4 linked regions of the Homo sapiens genome follow. The protein of the gene in region 1 interacts with the protein of each later gene in a pairwise test. Each region holds a gene or a part of one and is shown in the gene's direction. Other genes may lie near its edges. The genes, in order: REL, GRAP, FAM200C and TLX3.

Region 1 (7,000 bases):
CGCCACCACACCCGACTCATTTTGTATTTTTAGTAGAGATGGGGTTTCACCATGTTGGCCAGGCTGGTCTCAAACTCCTGACCTCAGGTGATTCACCCACCTCAGCCTCCCAAAGTGCTGGGATTGCAGGTATGAGCCACTGCGCCTGGCCAATTTTTCTGTTTTTTTATGGAGACAGGGTTTTGTCATGTTGCTTAGGTTGGCCTCAAACTCCTGCGCTCAAGTGATCCACCTGCCTCAGCCTCCCAAAGTGCTGAGATTACTTTAAACAATTTTTTACTAAGAGAAAAATATCCTTTTCTACTGATACTACTGATTTGGGACATATTCTATAATACTTATTAAATCCAACTTACATACATATTTATTGAAAACATTTTCTATATGTGAATAAAATATTTGTTTATTAAAGGAGAGGATACAATCCTATAATTTTTTATCTGCTTTCCTGGTTTCTTTCTAATCAGATACTTACGGCAATAAAGCAAAGAAACAAAAGACAACTCTGCTTTTCCAGAAACTGTGCCAGGATCACGGTAAGAATAGTTTGGATCGATTCATATTTAAATAGGTTTTGTTTTATTTACTTTATTCAGTTTTTCAAATTTTATTATTTTTGTTTTGTTTTGTTGTTTGTTTGTTTTTTGAGATAGCATCTCTCTCTGTCACCCAGGCTGGAGTGCAGTAGGGCAATCTCAACTCACTGCAACCTCTGCCCCCCAGGTTCAACAATTCTCCTGCCTCAGCCTCCCGGGTAGCTGAGATTACAGGCATGTGCCACCACACCCGGCTAATTTTTGTATTTTTAGTAGAAACAGGGTTTCGCCATGTTGACCAGGATGGTCTTGAACTCCTGACATCAGGTGATCCACCCACCTTGGCCTCCCAAAGTGCTGGGATTACAGGTGGGAGCCACCACGCCCGGCCAGTTTTTCAGATTTTAACTGATAATGTTATTTTTCAAATGACATTTAATAATGGAAAAACTTTATCCTAACAGTTAATTTTCCTGAGAGACCAAGACCTGGTCTCCTCGGTTCAATTGGAGAAGGAAGATACTTCAAAAAAGGTATTTTATTTCCTATAGCATATTTCTTGTGATCAGAAAGACCAGTACTTTGCACAATATATTGGAATTCTATTTTTAGGAATGAATAACTGCTTCTTTGAAAATTTTCTCTCCAGATTTTTCATGCTTTCAGTATAGAATGAATTAAGCATGGCTTCTGAAGGTTGTGTTAGAAACTGATTATGTTTTTGGGATTTATTGTTCAAGAAATTACATGTTGTTCATATGGTAGCAATTTTATTAATTACATTGCGTTATGAAAAAATGTTACTGATTTGGTTAGTTACCTGTTTTTATAAATAACATTTTACTGGAACACGGCCATGAATATTTGATTAAATATTATCTCTAAACTGCTTTTTTTTTTTAACACTATGGCAACAGGGTTGAATAGTTCCAACAGAGGCTGTATATAGCTCACAAAGCCTAAAATATTTACAATCTGACTTTTTACAGAAAAAAAAATTGCCAATCCCTAGTTTAGGTAATTCAACCGAGGGCTAATTAGAAGAAGTCTTTTTTCCCCCACGTACATTCTTAAATCATTGCTTTTTCCTGGTTTAGTTTGTAAAGCATTTGTATAATATGTAAATAGATACAGAATTAATTTTTTCTGTAATTTTTTTCTGACTGTGAATTTTATAGTCTCTTAGGGTTCTGTTGTAATATATCTTAAAAGTTATGTGTATTTTCTTATCCCTAATGAGTGTTGTCTCCATCCTTCCATTTTCTCCTAAAAGTGAAGAGTAAGAGATGATTTTGGCTATTTGGAATCCCATTAATTGTAATTCTAATATTTATCTTTTAGTTTTCAAAAATACCTTTATAGAGCCTCAGAAACTAGATTTTCATATTTAATTGAAGTGAAATTACATATGCCAAAGTAACTTGCCAAAATCATTTTACCTGTATTTGTAAAATGGTATATACGTTACAGAATTTCATTTTGGATTCGTGTAATAATTTTAGTGCTTTTTACATTTTTTTATTTGAAATGTTACATTGGTTTCCTTGACATTTTTCTTTATATATATTTGTGTGCTTATGCAATTTTAATTTAGAAATGCTTTTTATAATTTTGTTCATTTTAATTTCGTAAAATAAATTTTTCCTCCCACAGAACCAAACTTGTTTTCTCATGATGCAGTTGTGAGAGAAATGCCTACAGGGGTTTCAAGTCAAGCAGAATCCTACTATCCCTCACCTGGGCCCATCTCAAGTGGATTGTCACATCATGCCTCAATGGCACCTCTGCCTTCTTCAAGCTGGTCATCAGTGGCCCACCCCACCCCACGCTCAGGCAATACAAACCCACTGAGTAGTTTTTCAACAAGGACACTTCCTTCTAATTCGCAAGGTATCCCACCATTCCTGAGAATACCTGTTGGGAATGATTTAAATGCTTCTAATGCTTGCATTTACAACAATGCCGATGACATAGTCGGAATGGAAGCGTCATCCATGCCATCAGCAGATTTATATGGTATTTCTGATCCCAACATGCTGTCTAATTGTTCTGTGAATATGATGACAACCAGCAGTGACAGCATGGGAGAGACTGATAATCCAAGACTTCTGAGCATGAATCTTGAAAACCCCTCATGTAATTCAGTGTTAGACCCAAGAGACTTGAGACAGCTCCATCAGATGTCCTCTTCCAGTATGTCAGCAGGCGCCAATTCCAATACTACTGTTTTTGTTTCACAATCAGATGCATTTGAGGGATCTGACTTCAGTTGTGCAGATAACAGCATGATAAATGAGTCGGGACCATCAAACAGTACTAATCCAAACAGTCATGGTTTTGTTCAAGATAGTCAGTATTCAGGTATTGGCAGTATGCAAAATGAGCAATTGAGTGACTCCTTTCCATATGAATTTTTTCAAGTATAACTTGCAAGATTTAAATCCTTTTAAATCTTGATACCACCTATATAGATGCAGCATTTTGTATTTGTCTAACTGGGGATATAATACTATATTTATACTGTATATATAATACTGACTGAGAATATAATACTGTATTTGAGAATATAAAAAACTTTTTTCAGGGAAGAAGCATACAACTTTGGACATAGCGAATACAAAATTGGAAGCTGTCATAAAAAGACAACTCAGAGGCCAGGCGCAGGGGCTCACACCTGTAATCCTAGCACTTTGGGAGGCCAAGGCGGGTGGATCACTTGAGACCAGGAATTCGAGACCAGCCTGGCCAACATGGTGAAACCCCGTCTCTACTAAAAATACAAAAATTAGCTGAGCATGGTGGTACGTGCCTGTACTGTCAGCTACTTGGGAGGCTGAGGCACAATAATTGTTTGAACCCAGGAAGCAGAGGTTGCAGTGAGCTGAGATCACACCACCGCACTCCAGCCTGGGTGACAGAGTGAGACTCTGTCTCAAAAAAAAAAAAACAAAAAAAACACACTTTTTTATATTTCTTTTTATAATGTTTTAATGTATTCTTAAATTTCAAGCAAATTTAAGATAAAACTTGTAATGGCTATGCCATTGAAAAACTTAATTTTTTATTTTTGAGGCCCATGGGCCAAGGTAACCCCTAAGGGGTTTTCTTAGGCTTCTTGGAGCTTAGATTTGTATGTATATCAAAATGTCTTTAAAATGTTAAGTTGGGCAGAAGGCAGTTGAAGTGAGCTTTCAAGGTATGGGAGGTTTTCTACATTTTATACTATTTCAATCTATGCCTTTAAAGTTGCTTATGATTTTAGCTGTACACTCATTTTTTAAGGGGAAGAAGTTTCCTTGGACCATTCGCCTTTCTTAGATGTCCTCACTCCCTGTGATCTCATAAAACTGCCTATTTGACATCTCTATCTAGAAATCTAATTAAAGCTCACACTCAGCATATCCAAAACTGAATTCTTGGTCTTCCCTCCCAAACTTGCTTCTCCTTCAGTCTTCTCCAACTCAGTAAATGGCAATGCCATACTTCTGGTTGCTCAGGCCAAAAACCCTGAAGTCATCCTTGATTCTTCTTTTAGCACCCATATCCAATCCATTAGCAAATCTGGTAGACCCTACCTTCACAATATATCTAAAGCTGACCACCTCTTTTGACCTCTACTATTAACGCCCTATTCCAAGCCACCATCATCTCTTCCCTGGATTGAAGCTGTCATCTACAAAAATTCTTCTTATATCCTTGCATTCCTACAGTCTGTTCCCCATAAAGTAGCCAGAATGATTATTTTTAAAACAAGTCAACTCATACCATTCATCTGCTCAAAACCATTCATTGGCTTCTCATCTCACTCAGAGCAGTCAAAGTCCTTAAAAGTTGCAGGCCTAGACTCCCTGTCCTACCTCAGGTACCACCATATCCCACCTCCTCATGCAGCTCCAGGCACCTTGGCCTCAGTGCTCCTCAAAGCATCAAGTATGCACTTGCCTTGGACAGTCTGTACTTGGTATTCCCTCTGCCTTGAATGTTGTTCTCCCAGAAAAATGCATAGTTCACTCTTACATCCTTCAGGTGTCACTCCACTGTTACCTGAGCAGGTCGTCCTTGAATATATACATCAGCATTCCCTTTCCCCCCTGCTTTATGTATGTCCATAGCACTCACCACGATCTGACTTTACTAAGTATTTATTCATTTACTGTTTGTTTTCCCATACCGAAATATAAACTTTCTAAGGACAGAAATTTTTGTGCTTTATTGTTGAATCTCCAATTTGTAGAAAAATGCCTACCTTATATTAAACACTCAGTAAATGTTTATTGAACATTAAAAGTATTACTAATAGAACTTTGGTTTTTGAAAGAAATAATAACTTTAATTATAAGACGTATATGATTTTTGCAGTTTTACTTAGTGTGACATTGGGTTTATGAGAATCGTGTACATTCAAGTCCAGGAATAATAATGGTCATCCAAATTGTTTGAAAGGAAAATAATCCCAGTGGCAAAATGATGGTAGAATTTGGGTAATCTTTTTTTTCCTTTTATGAAAAGAGATTTTATTGAAGGTAAAACATTAGAGGTTCATTGAGAATCTCTAAATCCATGTTTTGACATTGTCAAGCTCATTGCAACTTCCAGATTGAGTAACACTTATAACACATTTCCTTTTCAAAGTGCAAGATTTTTAAAAGAGACTTGTCACATATTCATTTGGCTGGTTTCAAATGGTGAGCTGAATGCTGGGTAATCTCTACTAGCTCCTTAATCAGATTTAAAATTCTCAGTGTTTCCTAGTTGTTTCTGCATACTTTATGTGAGTTGTTATAGCTGTAACATTACACTTTATTTGCTGTTTGTGTTTCGTGACTTTTGGTAATTCTGGCATTTAGAAACCTTTCACTTTGCTTCAAAACGTAGTTATATTTTGGAGTTTTCATTTGATATATAATTATTTATTTTGCCCTTTTATTTCCCAAAGACATTGTAAGGGTTAATTAGATCATTATATTTTATTATTACAGATTAAAGTTGGGCAGTAATCTTAATTATGATGGAATTATCATTATGCTAAGTAATTAACTTTACCTAGTTTGTTTTACAACTAGAACCTGCCCTAAATGTTGAATATCTTCCTAGCAAGAAACAGTCTGTCATTTTACTTACACGATGTCTAACCAAACCATAACTTTACATAAACTAGTCGTTTCGGTCAAATAGAAAAATGTGTGAATGCCATAAAAACAAAAATTCTCAGTTAAATGATACTGGGAAATAGGGAAGACAGCAAAGTGAGACTTGGGCTCAGGATGGTTCAGGAAGAAAAAAAAAGAAAGACCCCTGAGTACCATTAATATTCCTCAGAAATTATTATTTCAAAAGGAAATATTTCTGTATTATAAATTTTTCATGAGCAGCCATTATGAAATCTCACAAGAATCATAGAATTCAATAAAAAAGGTAGAAAGTAATTTTTTTACTTAAAAATATAAATTAAAATAAATTTTTAAAATCATAAGCACATAAATAGAACTTACCAGGGAGAAAGAAAAACCTGAAGGCACAATTTCTTTTCTGTTCAAAATGTGAACCCAGGATGTCTCTAGATGATGATGGATGATAGGTGGGGAGATTTTTTTTTTTTTTAATACAGAATCTCATAGTTTTGGATTAATTAGCACCAATCAGTTTAAACACTGACTGTTAGAATAGCTGCATGGGTTTTTTTCTTTAAACTAATTAAGCGTTGGCTACTTAGTATAAGTAAGTATAAGCCGAATTAAGGTTCTGCTACATCTGTGTTTAGAATATTTTTTTAAAACTAAATAAGTGTTGGCTAGTTTTGCGGTGTAAGCAGAATTAAGGTTCTGCTACCTCTGTGTGTAGAATATTCCCAATGGATTTTTCATTTTTCAGGTGCTATTTTTTGACCCTGTATAGACTTTAATTTAAAATGAATTTGGTAACGTTTCTCCTCTGTCTCTACATATATTCATGCTTTCACCTGCTCTTTTAACACCTGCTTTTAGTATCTGAGGCACTTTTTCTGAACTCTACTTGTGCACTGGATCCCTCCTCCTTTCTCTGCCAGGCTGTGTTTACTTTATCCTTACATCACCACTTAGTGATTCCTTTCTTTGTATAAACATGGTAAATGTCTTCATTAGCCTAAAAGGAAAGACCAAATAAAACCTTTCCTACCACTTGGATGCATTTGCATCCTGACTTCTGAAATGCCTCCAGCCTCCATTTTCTCCCTTCCCAGTTATTCCTTAGCCCAGCCATCTCTGTCTTTAGCTCCTACAATTTTCTTAGGATATTCTGGGAAAGATGAGCGGAGACTGCCCGCCTTGTCAAATCTAGTGTCTTTTTTTCAGTCCTCACACTGCTTGACCTATGTATAACCTCCTATACTTCCCTCTTTGCATACTCCTCTGGGTTTTCTGTGGTAGTCAAGATTCCTCCCTGAGATTTATTTCCCATGAGTCTTGACCCCTCCCCTCAGTTGG
Region 2 (7,032 bases), on another chromosome or scaffold:
GACACAATGGAGACGCTCTCACACCCCCGGCACTGCCCACTGAAGTGAATGGCTCCAGCAGCCTCTCCTCTCACCAACTCAGGCCCACAATCCCAGTGCCCCCTCCCTCCTCTGGCTCTGGGAGGCTCATGCAGCAGAGCCGGCTGCACTGGATCCAGCCCTCCCGGTTCCGGGGCCATCTGGACTCAGATTCAGTTCCTCCTGCAAGCCCTGAAGTTCCCACAGGCCTTGGGAAGGGGAGTGGAGATGAGGTCTGGAGAGGCCCCAGAGGGTAGCCCCAGTCTGGGGGATTCTCAAATGCTTTGAGGCTCCACCTGGGCCTTGAAGGATGGCTAAGGTCAAGACTAGACAGAGAAAAGGGAAAAGGCATTATTTCTGGTGAGGGCCATGAGCAAGAGCCCAGCCAGGCTAGGGAAAAGGGCCAGGCTGGGAGAGGGAGTGACAGCTGGGATGCTGGGCTGTGAGATGACAGAGACAGCACCGCTTGGCCTCAGGCAGGGGCTGGCTCAGCAGGAGGGGCTGCACCCAAGCCTCACTGTCCTCTGCTGTAAAGCAGGACATTTGGACCAGGTGGGAGAAGGGGCAAGATTTGCCATTTACTGAGCACCTAGTATGTGCCACACACAGACTAGGTAGGGGCTGGCACATGCACGTTTCCCAGATTTGAGAATTCTCCAGTTCCCAGGTTGGAAAGCCCTAGAATCCCTGGGTCCCTGGCTCCCTTTCCCTTATCTCCTGTTCTCCACTCCCTGACTCTACTATATGATCAAAGAACTGCTCCAGATAACGTTCTATCTGCTCTAGATAACTTTCCAAGTATCTAAAGATGAACTTCAAATACCATAAAATTCAAAGTTGTGGTCGTTTGGGTTTGAAATCATTTTCAAACCCACCACACCCTTTCTGTCCCCTCACCCAGAGGAGTGGGGCCACCTGTATGCAGGCCCCTCCTCGGGGCCAACAGGGAGTCAGGGCCTTCTGCCTGGGTACCCGGTGCCCCAGAGGTGGAGCCACTGGGATCCCTGTCTCCAGGCTTCTCGCCTGCCCAGCTGTGGGTCACCGTCACTCCACTGCTTGAAGCAGTGCTCCTCCCCAGGCACCACGGCCAAAGTTCAGTAAACCCTGGGCTGGTTAGCACGTGGCACTAGGGAGTCATGGGGCTCAGAGGCTGCCTCTCGGAAGCCTCTGGGAGGCTTCGGAAGGCCAGACAGGGCAGGAGACACACATCTGCCTGCACACCCACCTCCGCGTCACGAGCACATGAACTAGCTCTCTTTCTGGCTGTGTGACCCTGAGGGCTGGATGCATCTTAGAGCAATGGGTTGGCCACCGGAGCCTGGGTTCAGGGTCAGAACACCTGGTGGGCTGCAATCCCAGTTCAGAACCAACAGAAGTGGGTTTCAAGAACAAAGCATCGCAATGAGGACCTAAGACCTGGAAAGTGATGCTCTGTTTGCTGAGTCCCAGCTAGACTGGACCTTCAGGGCCCACTCCTGCCTCCCTGCCTTTTTAGTGTCTCATATGCAAGTCATTTTGAGTAGCAAGTTACAAGAAGGCTATGAGAGGGGCTGAGGGATCCAAGAAGGCCCTGACTGCGTGATGGGGTCTGATGCAGCTCTCACAGGATGCGCCATTTTACCTGGGCCTTGAGGCATGAGTAGGAGTTCAAGAAAAATTCCTTCCAGTTGGAGGAAATACTGTGTGCAAATGCCTGGAGGTGTATTTAGAAGTGGTTTGGGGCTGGGCGCCGTTGCTCACACCTGTAATCCCAGCACTTTGGGAGGCCGAGGTGGGCAGATCACCCAAGGTCAGGAGTTTGAGACCAGCCAGGCCAACATGGTGAAACCCTGTCTCTACTAAAAATACAAAAATTAGCTAGGCGTTGTGGCAGGTGCCTGTAATCCCAGCTACTAAAAATACAAAAATTAGCTAGGCGTTGTGGCAGGTGCCTGTAATCCCAGCTACTCGGAAGGCTTAGATGAGATAATCGCTTGAACCCAGGAGGCGGAGGCTGCAGTGAACCGAGATCGCACCATTGCACTCCAGCCTGGGTGACAGGGCGAGACTCCGTCTCAAAAAAAAAAAAAAGGGAGAAGTGGTTTGGACCCCTTGACTGTAATGGAGTAGGGGGAATCCCATTTTGCCCTACGCCTCATACAGACCAGAGGGTGGGAAACTTGAACACATCTTTATCTTAAATCTTTCATCTTAAAACATCAATAAGGAAGGAAGCCACCCCAGGGATGACTGGTGGAGAAACTCAACCACAGGCAGGGATAGGACAGATGGAGCAGCAGATCTGGGCAGCTGGGGTGACAGACACCACCCTCTTGTTCAGGAGAACCATAGACCTGAAGGAACTCAGGCTGTGGGTGAACCCAAGCTTGCAAATGTATTGCGACCAAATTGTTTAACCAGATTTCAATTTACAACCCAGGAGAGGTAGGGGTGTGTGTGTGTGTGTGTGTGTGTGTGTGTGTGTGTGTGTGCGCGCGCGCGCGCGCATGTGTCCCATCAAGGCATCAAGTGCTTTGGACTGGTGGTTGGATCTCATTTAGCCCAAATGTGAACAAAAAGATCCCTAGCCTGTGGCTCAGGAGGCTGAGGGGCTATCTACCTCCCAGTGGCCATCCTGTGCCCCTACCCTGCCTCACCCGGCTCACAGGGCCCCAGGCTTTCCCAGCTATTAGCTCCGCCAGCCACCTGAACAGGTGCCCTCCCTCGGGGTCCTAAACTGTCTTCTTTCTGGTTGGGAGCTGGGACTGTTCTGTGTTCTCCCCACAGCCCCTAGCCCAGCCAGGTGGGCCTAGGGTGGCTCTGTTGGCAGCACCCACACAGCCCCCAGGGTCCCAGGCCTCTCAGCTCCCTTGCAAGGAGTGCACTATCGCCCACATTTGGCAGGCCAGGACGCAGAGGCCCAGAGAGGTGGGCTGGGGTCTAAGTCCAGGCAGGCTGGCTATAGAGCTGGGAAGGGTAGCTAAGGTTTGGCCAGGCAGAGAGGATGAGGCAGGGAGGGAGGGCCTCCTGGGGGGCACAGCCCAGGTAGCAACATGGCAAAGTAGAAATGGACTTGGAATGATGAGCTCTGGAACAATAGTAATAGCATAATTGGAATAATTATTATTGCTATTGTTATGTGATAATAACCAATCAGGAGGGCATTAGGCAACGTTTTACATGTATGAGCTCAAATGTGGCCCCAGCTCTGACCTTTCTTGCTGTTGTGGCTCTGGGCAGGTCGCGGCTGCACTCGGGGCCTCAGTTTCCCCACTGGGGCATGAGGATTTCAAGAAAAATTCCCTCTAGCTGGAGGACACTCTGTGTGCAAATGCCTGGAGGTGTGTTTAGAAGTGGTTTGGACCCCTTGACTGGAATGGAGTAGGGGGAATCCTGTTTTGCCCTATGCCTCATACAGATCAGAGGGTGGGAACCTTGAACACATCTTTTTTTTTTTTTTAGAGACAGAGTCTTGCTCTGTCGCCCAGGCTGGAGTGCAGTGGCGCGATTTTGGCTCACTGCAACCTCCACCTCCTGGGTTCATGCCATTCTCCCGCCTCAGCCTCTGGAGTAGCTGGGACTACAGGCACCCGCCACCACGTCTGGCTAATTTTTTTTTGTTTTTTAGTAGAGATGGGGTTTAGCCAGGATGGTCTCGATCTCCTGACCTCTTGATCCGCCCGCCTCGGCCTCCCAAAGTGCTGGAATTACAGGCATGAGCCACCGCGCCCGGCCTTGAACACATCTTTATCTGAAATCTTTCATCTTAAAACATCAATAAAGCAGCAAGCTGCCCCAGGGATGACTGGTGGAGAAACTGAAACATAGGGCCCAATTTGCTCCTCCTGGGCCGTGAGGCAGGCCAGCCACCCCCGAAGCACAGCGGGGCAGCGCTGCAGTCATGTCTGCCATGATCTTGACCCACAGCTGCACCGCCTCCAGTCCCAGCCCCACAAGGCCTGTCCTGGGTGGACACGCCGAGTGTGAGAGGTTCCAGTTAGTTCCTCTGCCCAGTCCCAGCCAGGACAGGCTCTGCCTCTGGCCAGTTTGAAAGAGCAGGCTCGGCTGGGTGCGGTGGCTCACGCCTGTAATCCCAGCACTTTGGGAGGCTGAGGCGGGTGGATCACGAGGTCAGGAGTTCGAGACCATCCTGGCTAACACGGTGAAACCCCGTCTCTACTAAAAATACAAAAAAAATTAGCCGGGCGCGGTGGTGGGCGCCTGTAGTCCCAGCTACTCGGGAGGCTGAGGCAGGAGAATGGCGTGAACCTGGGAGGCGGAGCTTGCAGTGAGCCGAGATAGCGCCATTGCACTCTAGCCTGGGTGACAGAGCGAGACTACGCCTCAAAAAAAAAAAAAAAAGAAAAGAAAAAAGAAAGAGCAGGCTCTCTCCTCCGCTGGGCTAGAAGGTACTTGGGGCGATTTGGCGATAGTGGGCTGGCTGGAAGGCTGGGCACAGACGGGAAATGAGAGAGAAAAATCCGTGGCTGGGCGCAGTGGCTCACGCCTATAATCCCAGCACTTTGGGAGGCCGAGGAGGGTGGATCACAAGGTCAGGAGTTTGAGACCATCCTGGCCAAGATGGTGAAACCCCGTCTCTACTAAAAATACCAAAAAATTAGCCGGGCGTGGTGGCGGGCACCTGTAATCCCAGCTACTCAGGAGGCTGAGGCAGGAGAATGGCATGAACCTGGGAGGCGGAGCTTGCAGTGAGCCGAGATAGCGCCATTGCACTCTAGCCTGGGTGACAGAGCGAGACTCCGCCTCAAAAAAAAAAAAAAAGAAAAGAAAAGAAAAAAGAAAGAGCAGGCTCTCTCCTCCGCTGGGCTAGAAGGTACTCGGGGCGATTTGGCGGTAGTGGGCTGGCTGGAAGGCAGGGCACAGACGGGAAATGAGAGAAAGGGGCCTGCTTGCTTCATCGGAGAGGATATAAAGTAAATGAAGCTGGACATGTAAGTGGAGCCAGATCTTGAGTCTGAAGTGTTAAGAGTTTACCCTGAGGCCAAGGGAGAAGCCACGGAAGGTTCATGGGAGGGGGAGGACGTGAGACATTCAACAGGTCTGAGCTCCTCTCATAGCAGTAGGCTTTGGTCTGAGTCAGGATGAGTCTAGGACTTGCTCCCCAAGGGACTCTGGGGCATGGGAGGAGCAGGGGAGCAGGGAGTAGGTCCAAGCTGAGGGGAACAACAAAGAGATGTGAAGGAGATGCTCTCTGATCACGACACACTCAGAGGTACCCATTTCACGTTGCCAATATGCCAGTCACTGTGCACTTATCCATAACGGAGATGTTATCATTATGAGAAAACTGAGGTTCAGAGAAGTTGAGAGACTTGCATGAGGTCACACAGTGAGAAAGTGGCCTGGTTCAGAGCCCACACCCTTAAATTAACCCCATATTCCACTGCCAGATGGGACTCCCCAGACCCCATGTGGAGCTGGGTCAGTGGGGCCTCTCCCACTTGCACCTTATCTGACTCCAGGTCCCACCGTGAGACAGGCTGGTTCCAGGTGGTAGTGAGACGGGAGCCCCTGGGACCATGCCAGGCTGGGACGGCCACCACCTGAGGTGGCCCCGGGTCCTTTCCCCTAGCTATGGAGACCAGGTGCAGCACTTCAAGGTGCTGCGTGAGGCCTCGGGGAAGTACTTCCTGTGGGAGGAGAAGTTCAACTCCCTCAACGAGCTGGTCGACTTCTACCGCACCACCACCATCGCCAAGAAGCGGCAGATCTTCCTGCGCGACGAGGAGCCCTTGCTCAAGGTAGGGGCGGGTGGGGGCTGGCCTGTGGGAGCCTCTCTGCACCTCCTGCCATCTGCAGCAGGGGAGATGCTGACACTGAGGCCAAGCACGGGCCTGGTCTCACTTCCCCAGCAGCCTGGTATTGCAAGAGGCGTCCAGCCCAGGCTTCGAAGTTATATCCTGGTGGCGGCTATGGTGAGACTTGCAAGGGTGGGAAAGGAGAAGAGGGAAAGAAAAGCAAAGGACAGAAGGAAAATCCCATGGGGACAAACTGTCTAGCTTGTTCTCAGCTCCTAGAATAGCATGTGGCACACAGTAGGTGCTCAATAAATGTTCATTGAGTGAAGGAAGGTACAGACCCCCACTGAGCATACTGGGTACCATGCACTGAACTGGTCTCTGTACTCTGGGAGCCTCATCATGCCCATTATACAGATGAGGAAACCGAGGCTCAGAGAGTGCAGTGACTCATCCAAGGACACTTACCTGGTAGGCTCAGTCCTGGTTTCTGCTCGCGGAAGAGTTGACCTTGGGTGTGGGGCAGCATGAGTGCTGGTGGGCGAGATCCTGGCAAGCCGCGGGGTGGGGGGTGGGGGGTGGGGGGTCGGGGTCATCCACCCCTTGACCTTGCAATAACAGCAATTTGCCAGCCAGCCCTTTCATCAAGGAGCCCCAAGGGCCAGCTCTGAAGCTGATTGGGATGCCAACAATAGCCACTGGGGTTATTAGCCCCAACAGGCTGTTTTCTTCAGGAGCGGGGATGCTGGCAAGGCCTGGGGCTGGAGGTCAAGACCCTGGGACACTTGAGCTTGGGCTCTGCAGAGGAGATGGGGAGTGTGGCCAAGGCCTGGGGAGAGGCTGATAACCGCTGAAGAGAAGCTCCAGCCAAATCTTGTTCCTAGCACCTCCCCACCACCTTTCCATGTGATCAGAGGCCAGTTCATCCCCTCAGTGTTCCCTCTGTTCAGTAGGATGAGCCCTGGGGTCTGATATGCCAGGGGAGTCAAACAGTGCCTTGAGAGACCCCCACTAGTTTCTCCTCTGTTGGCCTTCCCTGCCTGACCCTGAGTGCCCAGGTCACTGTGAGCTCCCAGCCTCAGGGCACTTTTCTCTCCAGCTGGGCTCCTGTCTGCCAGATCTCCATCCTCCTCCCTGTTCACCACCTGGGCCAGCTCTGCCTTGGAAGAGTGTGAGGAAGCCAGGATGGAGCTAGGGCAGGGGCAACTGAGAGCTCCCCTACACCCAACACCTCGCTCTGGCCCGGGCCGTGGGGTCACCCACCCTGTGGCTCGAC
Region 3 (7,352 bases), on another chromosome or scaffold:
TCTTTGTTTTTTGGGTTGTTTTTATTTTTTTGAGACAGGGTCTTGCTCTGTTGTCCAGGCTGGAGTGCAGTGGCACGACCGCAGCTCACTGCAAGCTCCACCTCATAGGCTCAAGCAATTCTTCTGCCTCAGTGTCCCAAGTAGCCGGTATTACAGGCACATGCCCCCATGTGCAGCTAATTTCTGTATTTTTTTATAGAGCCAGGATTTCACCATGTTGCCCAGTCTGGTCTCAAACTTCTGAGCTCAGGTGAACTGCCCACCTCATCCTCCCAAAGTGCTGGGATTGCAGGCATGAGCCACCGTTCTTGCCAGTATTATTTGTCAAGGCCTTTATTTGTAATGGCCTGTGATCTAGTCCTGTCTCCAAATGCATTTTTACAATGATGAAACAAGCCTAGAGTCTGAGTGATTTGCTCAAGTTATATTAATGGAGATATTGTGAGGTGTAGGTATTGCCTTCTTCTTGGAGTATTTAGTAATTATGACTAATGGACAGAAGAAATGTGCATTCTAAAGCATTTTAGAGTTATTGGCATGTTGACCGGAAAGAATTGCCTTCTAGCTCCGTAGTTTGTAAGTTTTGGCAAGTCCTTGAGAAAAGTCAGAATTGTAGTCTCTACCAGAAGCATCATTTGTGAGCTTGTATAAGTAAAGTGAACCTCATTTAATTTTTGTTATTAAATAAAATTTCTTCAACATTGATTTAAAATGTTATAGAATGTTTTGTGCTGTATAAAAATATCATATAAGCCAAATAGTGATTAGTTGTAGCTTGACAGTAGAAGGGCTGACTCCAAAGCTCTTTCAGGCAATCTGCGTTTTTGATAGAGCAGTTCATATTCAGTGGGGTGTGTTGGTACTCTGCCACTTTTGAAGAAAAGACATCTGATGTAGAGCTGTGATACACATTTTATTCCTCTCACTATAGGCACTGAACGCAGAGGAGGCCCGCCTTCTTCATGTCAAGGAGACCATGCAGATTGATGAGAGGAAGCGGCCTTACAATAGCATGTATGAAACTCGAGAACCTACTGAAGAGGAAATGGAGGCATATAGAATGAAACGTCAGAGGCCAGATGACCCCATGGCCTCTTTCCTTGGACAGTAGCAACTAGTCAGAAGACCATCCAAGATAGATGCAGCTGATACATTCTTTTCAGCTTCTTATTGATGATTGTAGATAGAAAAATCCTTGTTTATTCTTCTTGCTGCCTGGCTTTAATAAATATTTCAGATGCCTCACAGTAAGTTCACTCCTTTCCATACTGAGGAAACAAGAAAAGAAGAAGAGGCACATGAAGTGTGCTTTTGGGAATAGAATTTAAAATTGGATTAAGATTTTATTTCCAGTTTTTTTTATTTATTTATTTTTTTTTTTGAGACGGAGTCTTGCTCTGTCGCCCAGGCTGAAGTGCGGTGGCGCGATCTCGGCTCACTGCAAGCTCCACCTCCCAGGTTCACGCCATTCTCCTGCCTCAGCCTCCCTAGTAGTTGGGACTACAGGCGCCCGCCACCATGCTCAGCTAATTTTTTGTATTTTTAGTAGAGACGGTTTCATCGTGTTAGCCAGGATGGTCTCGATCTCCTGACCTTGTGATCCACCCGCCTCAGCCTCCCAAAGTGCTGAGATTACAGGCGTGAGCCACCGCGCCTGGCCTATTTCCAGTTTTATGTGAGTCATGTAAAAAAGCCTTGGCTCTCTACCTATTAAGAATGTCTCTTTCTCTGTATTTATTAAGCTTCAAACTTTATTGCTTCGATTTTTGTGGCCCTATATTTAGTATTAGCACACCTTGGTTTTGAGAAAAAAACAGGGCTTTGTTTTTTTAAATAATTACTAGCAACTCTGTGACTACATTTATTTTTATTTTTTTTAGAGACAGGATCTTGCTATGTTGCCCAGGCTAGAGAGCAGTGGCTTTTCACAGACAAAGTCATAATGCCCTGCAGTCTTGGGCTCAAGCGATTCTCTCTTCCTTGGCCTCTGGAGTAGACTAAATGTGTTAGTCTTTGAATGGAAAACAACTATTTTCTCATCATTGGGTCAATATTGACTGATCAGTAGTAGGTCTTTTACCATTCTGGACATAAGTCTAGGTGTAGAAATCCTTTCCTTTATCATAGAGGATATGGTTTACATTACCGTTTGTTTTCATTGTGATTGCCCCTATGTAACAATCATGAATATTAGATTTTTTAAATTGTAGAATATCCTAATATTTATAGCCAGCAGCTGTTACTTTGTTTGTAAAATTTGCAAAAAAACAAAACCTGAAGTTGGTTTATTGAAAGAATTATAAGGATAGCTTCTAGGGATATTAGTAATAGATTGCCATGATCCTGAAGCCTCTTCTCAGAACACTGTGAAGATAATACTGACAGTAGAATCAGTGAAAACAGCCTAACAAAACCTCTGACATCAGTATATCAACTTTTAACAGCCCACTCACTGGCTTTTCTAAACTACCAAAAACCACCTGTAGGATACTGCATTAAGTCAGCATCTCAGAAACAGTGGTGTGAGTAACTGAGTCAAATTGTCAAGTACTTTGGATATACATAGTGTCGAGCTTTAGATTGGTATGAAATTAAACAGCAATGCAAATAGATTTAATTCCTATTTACTTTAAGAATGAAAAACAATGTTCATTTTCCTACCTAAACAGGGTGGTTCAACATAAAGGCTGATGTTGTGTCCGTTTTGTATTTTATCTTTTGTTAAAGATACATAAATGACAATACTTAACTGTGAGTGGTTTGTAGCATTATTTCTAATATTTGGCAGAAAAGTTGTTTATGGGACAGGGAGGGGAACCTGGATTAGCTTCTGTGAGTTTAAGAAAATTTCAGCATCTTGTCACCTAACCTTTCTGGACCTCTTTCCCTCTTCTATGAGGCCTGGTTTACTTAGATTTAGGAAGAATTCTGTAATATCCAGAATCATGTCTTCTGTTTTATTTTGGAAAAGTAATGCCTAGCCAGCCTGGCCAACATAGCAGAGCCCTGTCTCTATGAAAAATACGAAAATTAGCTGGGCATGGTGGCACACGCCTATAATCCCAGCTACTCAGGAGGCTGAGGCATGAGAATTGCTTGAACCCGGTTCAAGAAGTTACAGTGAGCTGAGATTGCGCCACTGCTCTCCAGCCTGGGCAACAGAATGAGACCCTGTCTCAAAAAAAAAAAAAAAAAAAAAAGAAAAAAACATAATGCCTAGGACATTACTCAGATTGAGCTTTGATTTTATTATCTCAATAATAGCTGCCTTTTGAGTGCGAGAATTATGTACTGTAATTGTCATAATGTTATCTCCTTCCTCAAAAGAATTTCATGGGGTAATGGATGATATGTAAGTTTTACAAAAAGCACATGGAATTAACTCCAAGTAACCTGCACAAATCCTAACCGTTGGAGTCAGGACATGAAGCTAGCTGTGGGATTCTGAAGCCTACCCCTTTCTCTAGTATTGAAGGCCCTAATTTCTTGACCAACAAGGCTGGTCTTTAGCAGTTTCTTCCATCCACAAAAAACTTCAGCAGCCCGTCAATATTTACCAGGCTCACCCTTAACACCTGAAAATGATGTATCTGGCCCACATTCGTTGACGCCCCACCACTCCTCACACACACTAGTCTTATGGAATGCTTCTAACAAGATTGTACAAAAATGAGTAAACTCATTAAGTTTATAAGAATTCTGGAAAGACCCCCAAACAGGAAAGGGCTATATTCCGGTTTCTTTCAACAACGTTTCCTAGTTTCTACTTGGGATTTTTCTCTAAAACCTCTCTAATATGGGTTTATTTCTTTGAAATCATGTTGTTGAAAGAATTTAAAATAAAAATATTTCAGATATATGATGATGACATGGAAATTCATCCCTATGCTCCCACTTACGGAAAGTGGGATCAGCTTGCATAGGCAACAGTACACAAGCTATGGAAGCTCATCCTCCACTGCTGAAATGTCTAATCTGAAATTACAATGAGCTTCCTTCTCTTTTTCTCTCATTTATTCCACATGGAACATGGCAATTATCAGGCGTTTTATCTCCAAGCTCAAAGCCCGACACAATATAAAAGTTTAAGTGCTCTGCATGTTAAAAAGAACTATGTGGAGTTTACAGCCCCTTCCATTCCTGAAATTGTACAGTTCATCCTCTCTGGCAGACACAATAAACAAACGATTTCTTGTTCCACGTACACAATCTTAAAAAAAAAATTGGGAAGGGCTAGCGCGCATGCTCAATACTCAAGCCAGCCAGCCCATCCCACAGCCCTTTGCTACTGCGCCTGCGTGTGGGAGACGCCTCTCCCAGTTTGCGGGCGGGAAGCACCCTGGAGAACCCGGATGGAACCCGGGCCTGGCTGAGGCGGAGGTTGTTGCGGATGCTTCTCTCTCCAGGCGCACCGCAGATTCCTGCCCGGGGGTTGGACCCGAGGAACCGCCGTCTCTACTGGTTCCGACGGCCAGAGGCTGGGCCCTAGGCTGAGCGGAGAGTGGGACTGGAGCCTGAAACGGGCGCCTAAAAGAAGCCCGTGCATCCCATAGGCCTGCGCCTCAGGCTTGGAGACGGGCGGGCGGAGACCGCGCTGAGTCTTTTTTTTTTTTTTCCTAGCAGCTGGCGTTCTTATCTCACCCGGGAGGCTGTAAAAATCTCCGTCCTTAACAGTAACACCATCAGGTCCTATCAGTTAAGAGCTGCTTGTTATTTGCATGCATTCTTATAATTAAATCTCCTAACAACCCTGTAAGGTAGGTACTGTTATCCCCTCTGGAGGAACTGAGGCTTGGAAAGGTCCCATCCTGTAAGTGACAAAGCCACGATCCCAGGCGTTTGCCCCTGGAGCGTCTGCCCAGCCACCAAGTTCCTGCCCCCATTCTCCTGGCTATTGATTTTAACTGTAAAATGTAATGGTTAAATGCTCTGCCTCCCCAGACACCTGCGCCTATCATGATCTTGCATACGCAGTGGCTAGAAAGAAGTTGAATTGTATTTGGTTTGGAGTTTTAGGTTTACAGCTGCACTTTGGTGTTTTCACTGCTGGAATATATATATATTAGCATTCCCTAAATATTTGTTTTGTGAGTGTTCACTTTTAACTGATTTTTCTCATTTGTAATACTTTTTCATATCTACCCTTCATAAACTTGCAAAAACATTTTACTTTGTTATATCAGATCTTTCATTAAGCATCTGAAGATAATCTCTCAAAAGAATCATGCTTAAAATGAGTGATATCTATCTTAAGATAATGCTTTTTATCTTTTTATTATGGAAAGTTTCCAAAATACATTAAAATAGAACGGTGTAATGATGTATACCCATCATCCAGCTTCAAGAGTTACCAACTTAAGGCCAGTCATTTCTTTTATCTCCACCCCGCTTTGTGCATGTTTGTGAGTGTGCTGAAGTACGTATTTCAAAGGAATCCCAGACATCTTATTTCACTTGTAAATAATTGTCTGTATCTAACAAATGAGGACTTTTTAAAAACACAACCACAATACCATTATCATGCCTGTTTAACAATATCTCCTTATCATGATGCTTTTTAATGTTTACGTTTTTTAGGATATTGTAATTCCTAAATACCACAAAAGCGCAAGTGCAAATTGTGAGGTTCTAAAACACAAGCCTCTTGGGCAGTAAGTTCATCTTTGAGGCCCTTGAAAATTCTTGCCACCTGTTCTCCCTTTTTGAGGGTTATGGAGAAGAATACTTTAAATTGATTTTCCTAAAACTGTTCAAAACAGATAAATTTTAAATTAAAATATACTTGAGAGACATAGTCAAGGTGGATAGGAATGGACTCTTAACAGATCTTGTAATGATTTCCAGTTTGTTTTGTTTTTGAGACAGAGTCTCACTCCGTCACCCAGTCTGGAGAGCGCAGTGGCATCATCTCGGCTCACTGCAACCTCTGCCTCCCAGATCAAGCGATTCTCCTGCATCAGCCTCTCCAGTAGCTGGGATCACCATGCACAGCTAATTTTTGTATTTTTAGTAGAGACGAGGTTTCGCCAAGTTGGCAGGGCCAGTCTCAAACTCCTGACCTCAGGTGATCCGCCTTCCTCGGCCTCCCAAAGTGCTGGGATTATGGACATGAGCCACCGTACCCAGCCTTTTTTTGAGACAGAGTCTGGCTGTGTCACCCAGGCTGGAGTGCAGTGGCGTGATCTCAGCTCACTGCAATGATCTCAGCTCACAGCAACCTCTGCCCCCTGGGTTCAAGCGATTCTCCTGCCTCAGCCTCCCGAGTAGATGGGACTACAGGCATGCGCCACCACACCCAGCTAATTTTTGTATTTTTAGTAGAGACAGAGTTTCACTATGTTGGCCTGGCTGGTCTGGAACTCCTGACCTCAAGTGATCTGCCCGCCTTGGCTTCCCAAAGTGCTGGGGTAGCAGGCGTGAGCCACCGTGCAGGGCCCCTCTTGTAATGATTTCTAATGTGACTAAAAACATTTTCCTTTATTCCCTCTTCCTCCCCAAATATTACATGATAAATATACATTAATAGAATACAGAAAAATAAGCATTTATGGTAATGTCATAATTTTATCGTCATTAATTAGAAGTGGTTCTAAGCAAAAGTGGTCATGTAGTCTCATTACTTGACAAAAGAAGTCTTAAGATCAGCTCTTTAAACTTCAGGTTGTCTTTTTTGATTGGCAGACATCCTCCAATTTAACAGGCTCATAACAACCTTGTAACAGCTCAGCTTATTTTATTGGAGTACACTTTACAACTAGTTCATCTTGGTAGATCCACTTGAAAGCTAATGCTTTAAGTGGATATTCTTGGCTTGTGATTTTTCTTTTAATGTCCAAAGTGGGCATTCAGATTTAAATGTGTACCTGTTACTTTATTTCAGCCACATTCTCTGGCACAGAACTTTGGAAACTTTGGGGATCACTTACTTATCTTGGAGATAGAATGTTTTCTAAGGTATATTTGAGCCTACCTGTGGATTATGCCTTTACTCGTTGCTAAAGGGAGAGAAAGAGAAAAGATATGGCTTTCATTTTAGGTTTCAACTTTCATAGGAGGCTGTCATCAACTCAGAAAATGTAGAAAATTTAAATATCTATTAAAGCATTGGGACCATTCACTTAGAAACCTAGAATATTTGTTAGCTAAGGATTGGTTTGAAGGATACGTTTTTATTCCCCTAAGCCTGACTACTTAACCAGGTTGTGTTTCAGGACTGCCTGAACAACATTATTTCATATTCTTTTGTTCTGCTTCTGGAGAAGATATGTATTAGTTCTAAGGTAGTGCAGGGACGTGTATATTTTGAAAGGGTTTCCCAGTGATTGTGATGATATGGTGTCTCTTGTCACAGA
Region 4 (7,562 bases), on another chromosome or scaffold:
CCTCCACGCCCTGGACCCAGCCCTGGGACATGGGATCAAATGCCACTAACAGCATTTTGCCCAAAAGGAACTCCCAAGCCAGTAGGGGAGACAAGTGAGCCCCACTATGGCCAGCCCTCACCGCCACTCTTGGGCTCATTCACCCGGACCCTGCACTGCTTCCCCTCCCCACTCAGTCCTGTGACTTAAGAGTCTTTACCACCTACCCCCAAAGAGGGGTGTGAGGTAAAGGGGAATATGTGGGCTTTGTAGTCTAAACAGTCCTGGGTTCAAATCCCAGCTCCACCCCTGTCTACTACATGCCCTTGGACAAGAGACTGTTTCCCTAAGTCAACTGTCCTTGAAGCCTCGTGACCTGCAGTGGGGGGTCCCAAGCAACAGCCGACATCTGAAGGCCTTTTCCTTCCACTGGCTGGCAGAGTCTTGAGACTGATCAGACCTCCTCAGGAAGGTTCTTCCCTAGGTCCTGCCCACTGGGGGAAGCAGTGATGAAGAGCTCAGACTGCTTTGTGCCCACTGTTAGATGGGGAAAGCAAGCCCCTGCACTGGGGAATGGTCCAGGAAATGTGAGTAGGTGCTCAGTAAATATTCGTTGAATAAATAAATGAATGGGCGAATAAATTTCGGCAAGTGTCTTTAGAGCCTCCCATCAGGAAAACTGGAAGGGCCCCTAGGGACTCCTAACTAGGGTGTGTAAGCCAAGAACAGCATGGCAGGTCAGCAACCTGTGACATGGTGTGTGTGCCAAATTATGTGTTTCTGTCTTTTTCTATGGAAGCAGACCACAATATTTTCATCCGTGTTTCAAATAGGGTAGCTGACCCAAATACATTTAAAGTCCTGATTCAGTCTCTACCCCATTTCACAGACAGGGAAATGGAGTCTCATTTCCCTCAGGAAGTCAATGGCAGAATGATCCTGGAGGAACCTGGCCTCCCACAGCTGGGCTCATGGGCCAGCTGGAAATCCCAGCATCTTGCCTGTCATCCCTGAAGCCCCACCCTCTTCTAGATGACTCTCGGCAAAGCCTCCACCAGCTGTACCCCTTTCTTCCAGCTTCTTCTTGGGGAAGAGGAGAGGATGTGCTCCATTCTGAAAGTCTCTCTAGCCCCGGGAATCCTCATCCCCAGTTCTTACAATTCTCATTTCCTAATCTCTTTCAGTGTGTATGCCTCACTGATCAAGTGACAGCAGGTAAATTACAAGGGCAGCAAGAAATTACAACCTCAGGAACACCAAATACATATCAGAACATACCTGGCCAAAACAGTGCTTAGAGGAAAACGTATGCCCTTGAGTGCATTTATTTAAAAAGAAAGAAAATTGACAAATTAAATTTTCAACTCAGCAAAGAAGGAATAAATCTTTTTTTAAACCGCAACATTCACGAAAGAGGTGGCATCTTAAAAGGGGATAATGACATCAAAGGCTTTTTTAAAAACCAACAAAATAACAAACCTTTGGCAAGTATGATCAGGAGAAGGCATGAATGAGCGACACGGGGAATGAGAAGTGGAAGGCATTAGTACAGATTCGTATGAGAGTTGCAAATTCTGAGAGAATCTTCCCACAATGTTACAACAACACATTTGAAAACTCAGATGGAATGGACCATATTCTGGGCACTGGCTTCCAGAGTTGAGCAGGCATCAGAATCACCTGGAGGGCTTGTTAAGCACAGACTGCCGAGTCCTACCCCAGAGTGTCTGATGCCGTAGGTCTGGCGAGGGTCCAATAATTTGCATTTCTAACAAATTCTCCAGTGATGCTGATGCTGCTGCTCTGGAAACACACTCTGAGAACCACTGTCCTAGGGACTAACCAAGTTCCCCCCATTCCTGAGCTGCCTAAGAGCTATCTGGATAGGAAGTGAAAGGAGGCTTATAATTAGTGGCCCAAAGCTCCTTCATCTGTATGACAGGGCTGGACGATGAGGGACCGTGGATCTCAGGAAGCCGGAAGCCAAGCAGTGAAGCAGAGCCCTGACCCGTGCCAGGCTTTACCTGGGGCGCTTATTTAATCCCATGAGGTTTATTTACCAGATGAGAAAACTGAGGCATAAAGAGGATGAATAATTCCCTGAGTCCACAGCTGGTAAACTGAGGTGGGAATCCCATTCTTAAGCACACAAGCTGGGAGCAGCGCTGTGCCACCCACGCCTTAATTCTGTGCCACAAACCTCTGTGCGGTGGGCCTTGTTGTCCTGATTTAACAGTGTCTGAAGTGACAAGGGCAGCCCTGAGTCCCGGGCACTGGAAGCCAGAAGGGAAGTGGAGCTGGTGAGGTGCCAACTCCAGCCCCCAAGTGGGGAGCTGTGCTTCCCTTGAACTCTCAAAGCCTCAATTCCCTCATTAGTGAGAAATTGGGGCCACTAACAGCCCTTTCCTCACAGGGTCATTGTGAAGAATAAATAAGTGTCCACCTCCCTGCCTGGCACAGGCTAGGGTCTCAGCTACAGTAGCTTTATAGTTGTCATTAAAGTTATTATGATATAACCGCCAGAGTTTCACACAGGCACTGCCACAGATGTTATCTCATTTTGTTCTCACAGCCACCCTGGGGGTAGCTGGTGCCCTTTTTGTTTTACAAATAAGGAAAATGCGGTTCTGGGAGGGGCGGTTAGGGACCCACACTGCCAGTGGCAGAGCCTGAATTAGAAGCAGGAGGCCCCCTGGAGCCAGGGCAATGGCATCTACCCCATCTGAGGGTCGTTGTCGCTGGAAGGGAGTGAGGGAGCACTTGCCCAGACCCCAGACATCCTGCAGCTCTCACTCCTCACTGTTGGGCCTCCCTCTCCACACCCACCAGGAAGGCTTAGCAAGGGCCAGGAATTTGCCCAAGGTCACACAGCGGGCAAGTGACCTAACTCCAGACCCAGGCCTGGAGGCCCTGCAAATCCTGACGCCTTTGGATTGTTGGGAGAAGAGAGAAAGAATCCCCAACCTGCACCTCCTGTCTTTCCCCGTCCTCTGAAACTGACCCTACTGGTAGACAAATACACCTTTCTCTCCAACGTACTGAGCCCCTGCAAATAAAATTAAACTGCCAACAAAATAAACAAGAGTCACAACAATAATACATCAGCCATTACTCTGGGGGGATAGAGTGGGAGGTGAGCCACGCTGCCCAGTGCCTACTACGTGCCAGGCCCAGTGCTCTGCGCTCCCTCAATATCTCACTCGCGGCTCACGAACAACCCGCATGCATGCATTATTTTCCTTTTTTGCAAACGAGAAAACCGAAATCTAAATATATAGAGTCAATTTCTCAAGGTCACTCAGCGAGGAAATGGCCAGTCCAAATTTGAACACACTTCTGGCCAACAACAGCACATCCGAGCTCTCACCACTGTCCACACCACAAGGAGCGGGAGGAAGAACCCAGGCCAGGGGTGCGACACTCAAAGAGTTTGCACCTAACGATTTTAGAATTCGCTGGAAGAAAATGATTCCGCTTGTCTCCCCAAAGCTGCAGCGGAAGGTGACTACTTCGTGTGCGGTCCTGTCCACGGTGCCCTGGGCCGGGTAGACAGTCACTGAGGCGCGAGCAGAACGGGGAGTGGTTCCAGCGCCCAAAGTGGACTGGAGCCGGGAAGGGCTCACCAGTCGCGTTTCCCAAAGAAATCCCGCAATTTGCTCTAGGAGCTGCCCGCGCCTTTGACATTCAGGAACCCGAAGTCCCTAGACCCGCCGAGCCGCGAGCGGGTTCCCACGCGCGACCACAGCCCCCTTCCATCCTGCAACGAATTACGAGAGTCAGGTCCCCGCTCCCCACCGGGCGACCCCGCGTCCCTAGCCCAGCCGCAGCTGGCACGCGTGGGCACCTGCGAGTCACGCCTCGGTCCGCCTGGCCGGAGCCAGGGAGTGTCTCCAAAGTGGCCGCGAGGCCGCGGCCGAAACCCGGGCGGGGGCGAATTCTCCCCACGCGGGTCGGCGTCATCCGGGGCGCGGAGAACGCTACGGTGCTCCCCTCGCCCCGCGCGCAGGCAGCGCGAAGCCTGCCCCGGGTAGTGCGCCCCTTTCGTTCCTCCGGCGGCGGTAGCGTCCAAGGGGCTTCTGCGGATTCCGCCGGGTCGTCCCGGGGTTGCAACTCCATTGTACCTGAAAGGATGCATTTGGTTTGGCTTTTGCTCAGATGAAAAAAAAAAAAAATTGGAAGAAAACGAAAACCCACTCAGCAAAAGACAATTTCACAAGCGGAGCGCTCTACCCACCCAGCGCGGTGTCTGGGAAGCGGCCCGGCCCGGAGGAGCGGGGAGCGTCTGCTAATTGCAGCTTCGTTAGATTTCGGGTTTGGGAGGCTGTGGTTCGGGCTCTAATATCCGCCGCCCATTATCCCTGCTAATAAATTTGACCTATTGTTCGTTTGTTAAAATGATGTCACCTTGGAACAGTCCCTAAGCTCCTATTTCCATGAATTAGGCCTTTATTGAAAGCCGGGAGCCAATGAGAGGAGAGAGGCTTGTTGATCGCAGCCAATGGCTGCGGCAGGAGAGGAATTAGCAGCGGAAACTCCAGGTTCGGTTCAAGAAAGATGACACAGAGCCTGTCGGGCCCGCGCACTCTTGGCAAAGTTTCAGTGCGACGAGAGGCGCCGGGCGCTCCATGGCCGCGCCGTAACGGGGACCCAGCCGCCTCCCCGCCCAGCCCAGCCCAGCCCTTCCGCCCGCCCAGGATGGAGGCGCCCGCCAGCGCGCAGACCCCGCACCCGCACGAGCCCATCAGCTTCGGCATCGACCAGATCCTTAACAGCCCGGACCAGGACAGCGCACCCGCCCCGCGGGGCCCCGACGGCGCCAGCTACCTGGGAGGGCCCCCCGGGGGCCGTCCGGGCGCCACATACCCGTCTCTGCCCGCCTCCTTTGCGGGCCTCGGCGCGCCCTTCGAGGACGCGGGATCTTACAGTGTGAACCTGAGCCTAGCGCCCGCAGGCGTGATCCGGGTGCCGGCGCACAGGCCGCTGCCCGGGGCCGTGCCACCGCCTCTGCCAAGCGCGCTACCCGCCATGCCCTCCGTGCCCACGGTCTCCAGCCTTGGCGGTCTCAATTTCCCCTGGATGGAGAGCAGCCGCCGCTTCGTGAAAGACCGCTTCACAGGTGAGCAGAGCTGGCGACCAGGCTCCAGGCCTCCGCCCTCTCGGGGCCAGAGGCGCCGCGCCCTGTGCGCTCCACTCCCGGAAACCATTTCAGAGGCCCAAGCGCGGCGGAGGCCTCGGCCCCAGGGCCCCGGGCAGCCGTGGTGGGGAGGGTAATCGGAGAGTTGCAGGAAAATAAGCCCGTGCCCGGGGGAAGGGACAGGGGGCGAGGGGGTCTCCCGACCGGCTTGGTGTCTCTGGAAACGCGCGCGACCAGCGAAATAGCGGAGCTCTCCGTGTCCCACGGGGCGCCACGGGGTCCGCATGGGGCCTGAACGGTGGCGGAGCCGGGCTGGGCTTCAGGGGCCCTCCTGTGTCTCCGCAGCGGCGGCCGCACTCACGCCCTTCACCGTGACCCGGCGCATCGGCCACCCCTACCAGAACCGGACGCCGCCCAAGCGTAAGAAGCCGCGCACGTCCTTTTCCCGGGTGCAGATCTGCGAGCTGGAAAAGCGCTTCCATCGCCAGAAGTACCTGGCCTCTGCCGAGAGGGCGGCGCTCGCCAAGTCCCTCAAAATGACGGACGCGCAGGTCAAGACCTGGTTCCAAAACCGGAGGACCAAGTGGCGGTGAGAGAGGCCTGACCCGGCCCACCTTACACCTGCCCTTCACCTGTCCCGCCCCGAGCCGCAGCCTCGCACTAGCCCTATTTTAAGGCTATCCACTACCCCCGCCCCCCTCTGCCTCCCCCAAACACACCCCCACCCCGCCTTCGCAGATTGTACCTCTTCCTTTCACCCTTCTCGCTGGCCTGTGCTTCTCTCTCCATCGTGGTCTCCCACGCCTTGGTTTCTCCTCCATCCCCATCCCCATCTTTCGTGAGCCCCTCCAACTCTCTCCCCGTGTTTTGTACGGTCTCCTGCGTTCACTTGATTTCCTCTCACCCACCCCCGCCCCAAACACACAGGCACACACACACACACACACACGCGCACACACACGGGCCTCTCGCACTCTCCTTCTCCTCCTTCTTCCAGCCCGCCCTCTCGGATTTTCAACAATCCTCGTGGACGCCGGTTTCCTCTCCCCCCATCTCCGCGTCTCCATTCCAGCCGCGTTTTTATCCGATCTCTGTTTTGATTCAACCCGTAAACGGCGAAGCGATCGCGTCTGGAAAGGGGTTCAAGACAGGCCCTGGGCGAACTGGATGAGACTGACCCAGCCCCCGGGCGTCGTGCGGGTGGTGCAGAGCCAGCCTGCTCACCCGCGGACCCCAGCGACCCCGGTTCCCGCAGGGCCAAGTCAGTTACACATAGGCCCTGCCCTTGCTATCTGGCGAAAGGAACAATCTTTATTGTTGGTGAAGCCACAATACCCGGGCGTGCAGGTGGGCGGCGGGCAGAGTCCCCTCCTGGAGACCCTCTGGCACACAACAAAAACAAATGATCCTAACCGGCTCCCTGGATATAAGAGCCTCGGGCGTAAAGCGCGGGCTGGGAGGCAGACGGGTTCTGCGCCTCGAGGCTCCCGGATGGCCTCGGCTCCCGGGAGGGCCGGGGCCCCGCCGGCGGCCCCGCGGTGCCGGGTGCATGACGGTACTGTCCCTCTCCCTCCCCCGGTGCAGGCGGCAGACGGCGGAGGAGCGGGAGGCGGAGCGGCAGCAGGCGAGCCGGCTCATGCTGCAGCTGCAACACGACGCCTTCCAAAAGAGCCTCAACGACTCCATCCAGCCTGACCCGCTCTGTCTGCACAACTCGTCACTCTTTGCTCTGCAGAATCTGCAGCCCTGGGAGGAGGATAGTTCCAAGGTTCCCGCTGTCACCTCCCTGGTGTGAGCCCACCAGCGCGCACCGTCGCCACGGATCGCCGCCCCCACCCAGCCGGGCGCCCCGGACCCCCCAGGCGGGCTGCGGGGGAACCGGCGCCGAGAGGGGAAGGGGCCGCCTAGCCCGAGTAGGCCCCAGGGCGCGGCCACAGACTGGCGGGCCGCGGAAGGGGGTAGGGCCCGAGCTCCGCGCGGCCGCACAATCCGAGCCCCCGCCCCGCGCCCCGTCCCGCCCCAGGCCCGGGCCTGACAAGAAAGCGCCTTACGTTTCTCCGCCCCCCGCCCGCACCCCCCGGGCCGGGCGCCTGTATTATACTTTGTACTTTTGCCCAAACGTGTAAATAATAAAAAAGTTTTGGCTTTTTTCTTTAGAAACCGGCCACCTGCTTCCCCCGCGGGGGCCGCTGGAGGAAGGGCAGCCGACCCGGCCGCTGGGGGAAGTGCCAGGGGCCCGGGGCACCCTGCGTTTAGGCTGGGTCCACTCTTCTTCTTTTCCGTTCCTTTTATTTAAGTCTTTTTATTTAATAAAAAAGTTAGCTATTTCACTTAACGCCGCTTTTATTTCGTTTTCGTTCCAATAATGCTCGGCGACCCCCGGCCCTGCGCCCCACCCCTGCGGCGGTAGAAGCCGAGCGGCGGCGCGCAGGGCGCGTCCACTTCCGCA

Evidence for each region.
Region 2: the proteins of REL (region 1) and GRAP interact in binary tests that used the Homo sapiens proteins (3 or more experiments, as listed by UniProt).
Region 3: the proteins of REL (region 1) and FAM200C interact in binary tests that used the Homo sapiens proteins (3 or more experiments, as listed by UniProt).
Region 4: the proteins of REL (region 1) and TLX3 interact in binary tests that used the Homo sapiens proteins (3 or more experiments, as listed by UniProt).

What each region holds. Positions count from the first base shown.
Region 1 is NC_000002.12:60,919,574-60,926,573, forward strand, and holds part of REL (proto-oncogene c-Rel), read left to right. Parts: intron 1-467; coding exon 468-536; intron 537-809; coding exon of another isoform or gene 810-905; intron 906-1,000; coding exon 1,001-1,069; intron 1,070-2,189; coding exon 2,190-2,962; 3' UTR 2,963-7,000. UniProt on the Homo sapiens protein: Proto-oncogene that may play a role in differentiation and lymphopoiesis.
Region 2 is NC_000017.11:19,022,942-19,029,973, reverse strand, and holds part of GRAP (GRB2-related adapter protein), read left to right. Parts: intron 1-5,480; coding exon of another isoform or gene 5,481-5,565; exon of another isoform or gene 5,566-5,584; intron 5,585-5,590; coding exon 5,591-5,759; intron 5,760-7,032. UniProt on the Homo sapiens protein: Couples signals from receptor and cytoplasmic tyrosine kinases to the Ras signaling pathway. Plays a role in the inner ear and in hearing.
Region 3 is NC_000005.10:160,397,044-160,404,395, reverse strand, and holds the start of FAM200C (protein FAM200C), read left to right. Parts: upstream 1-4,341; 5' UTR 4,342-4,757; intron 4,758-6,880; exon of another isoform or gene 6,881-6,954; intron 6,955-7,352. Other genes in the region: pre-mRNA-splicing factor SLU7, read left to right, coding at 932-1,111.
Region 4 is NC_000005.10:171,304,692-171,312,253, forward strand, and holds TLX3 (T-cell leukemia homeobox protein 3), read left to right. Parts: upstream 1-4,556; 5' UTR 4,557-4,674; coding exon 4,675-5,095; intron 5,096-5,458; coding exon 5,459-5,702; intron 5,703-6,697; coding exon 6,698-6,908; 3' UTR 6,909-7,448; downstream 7,449-7,562.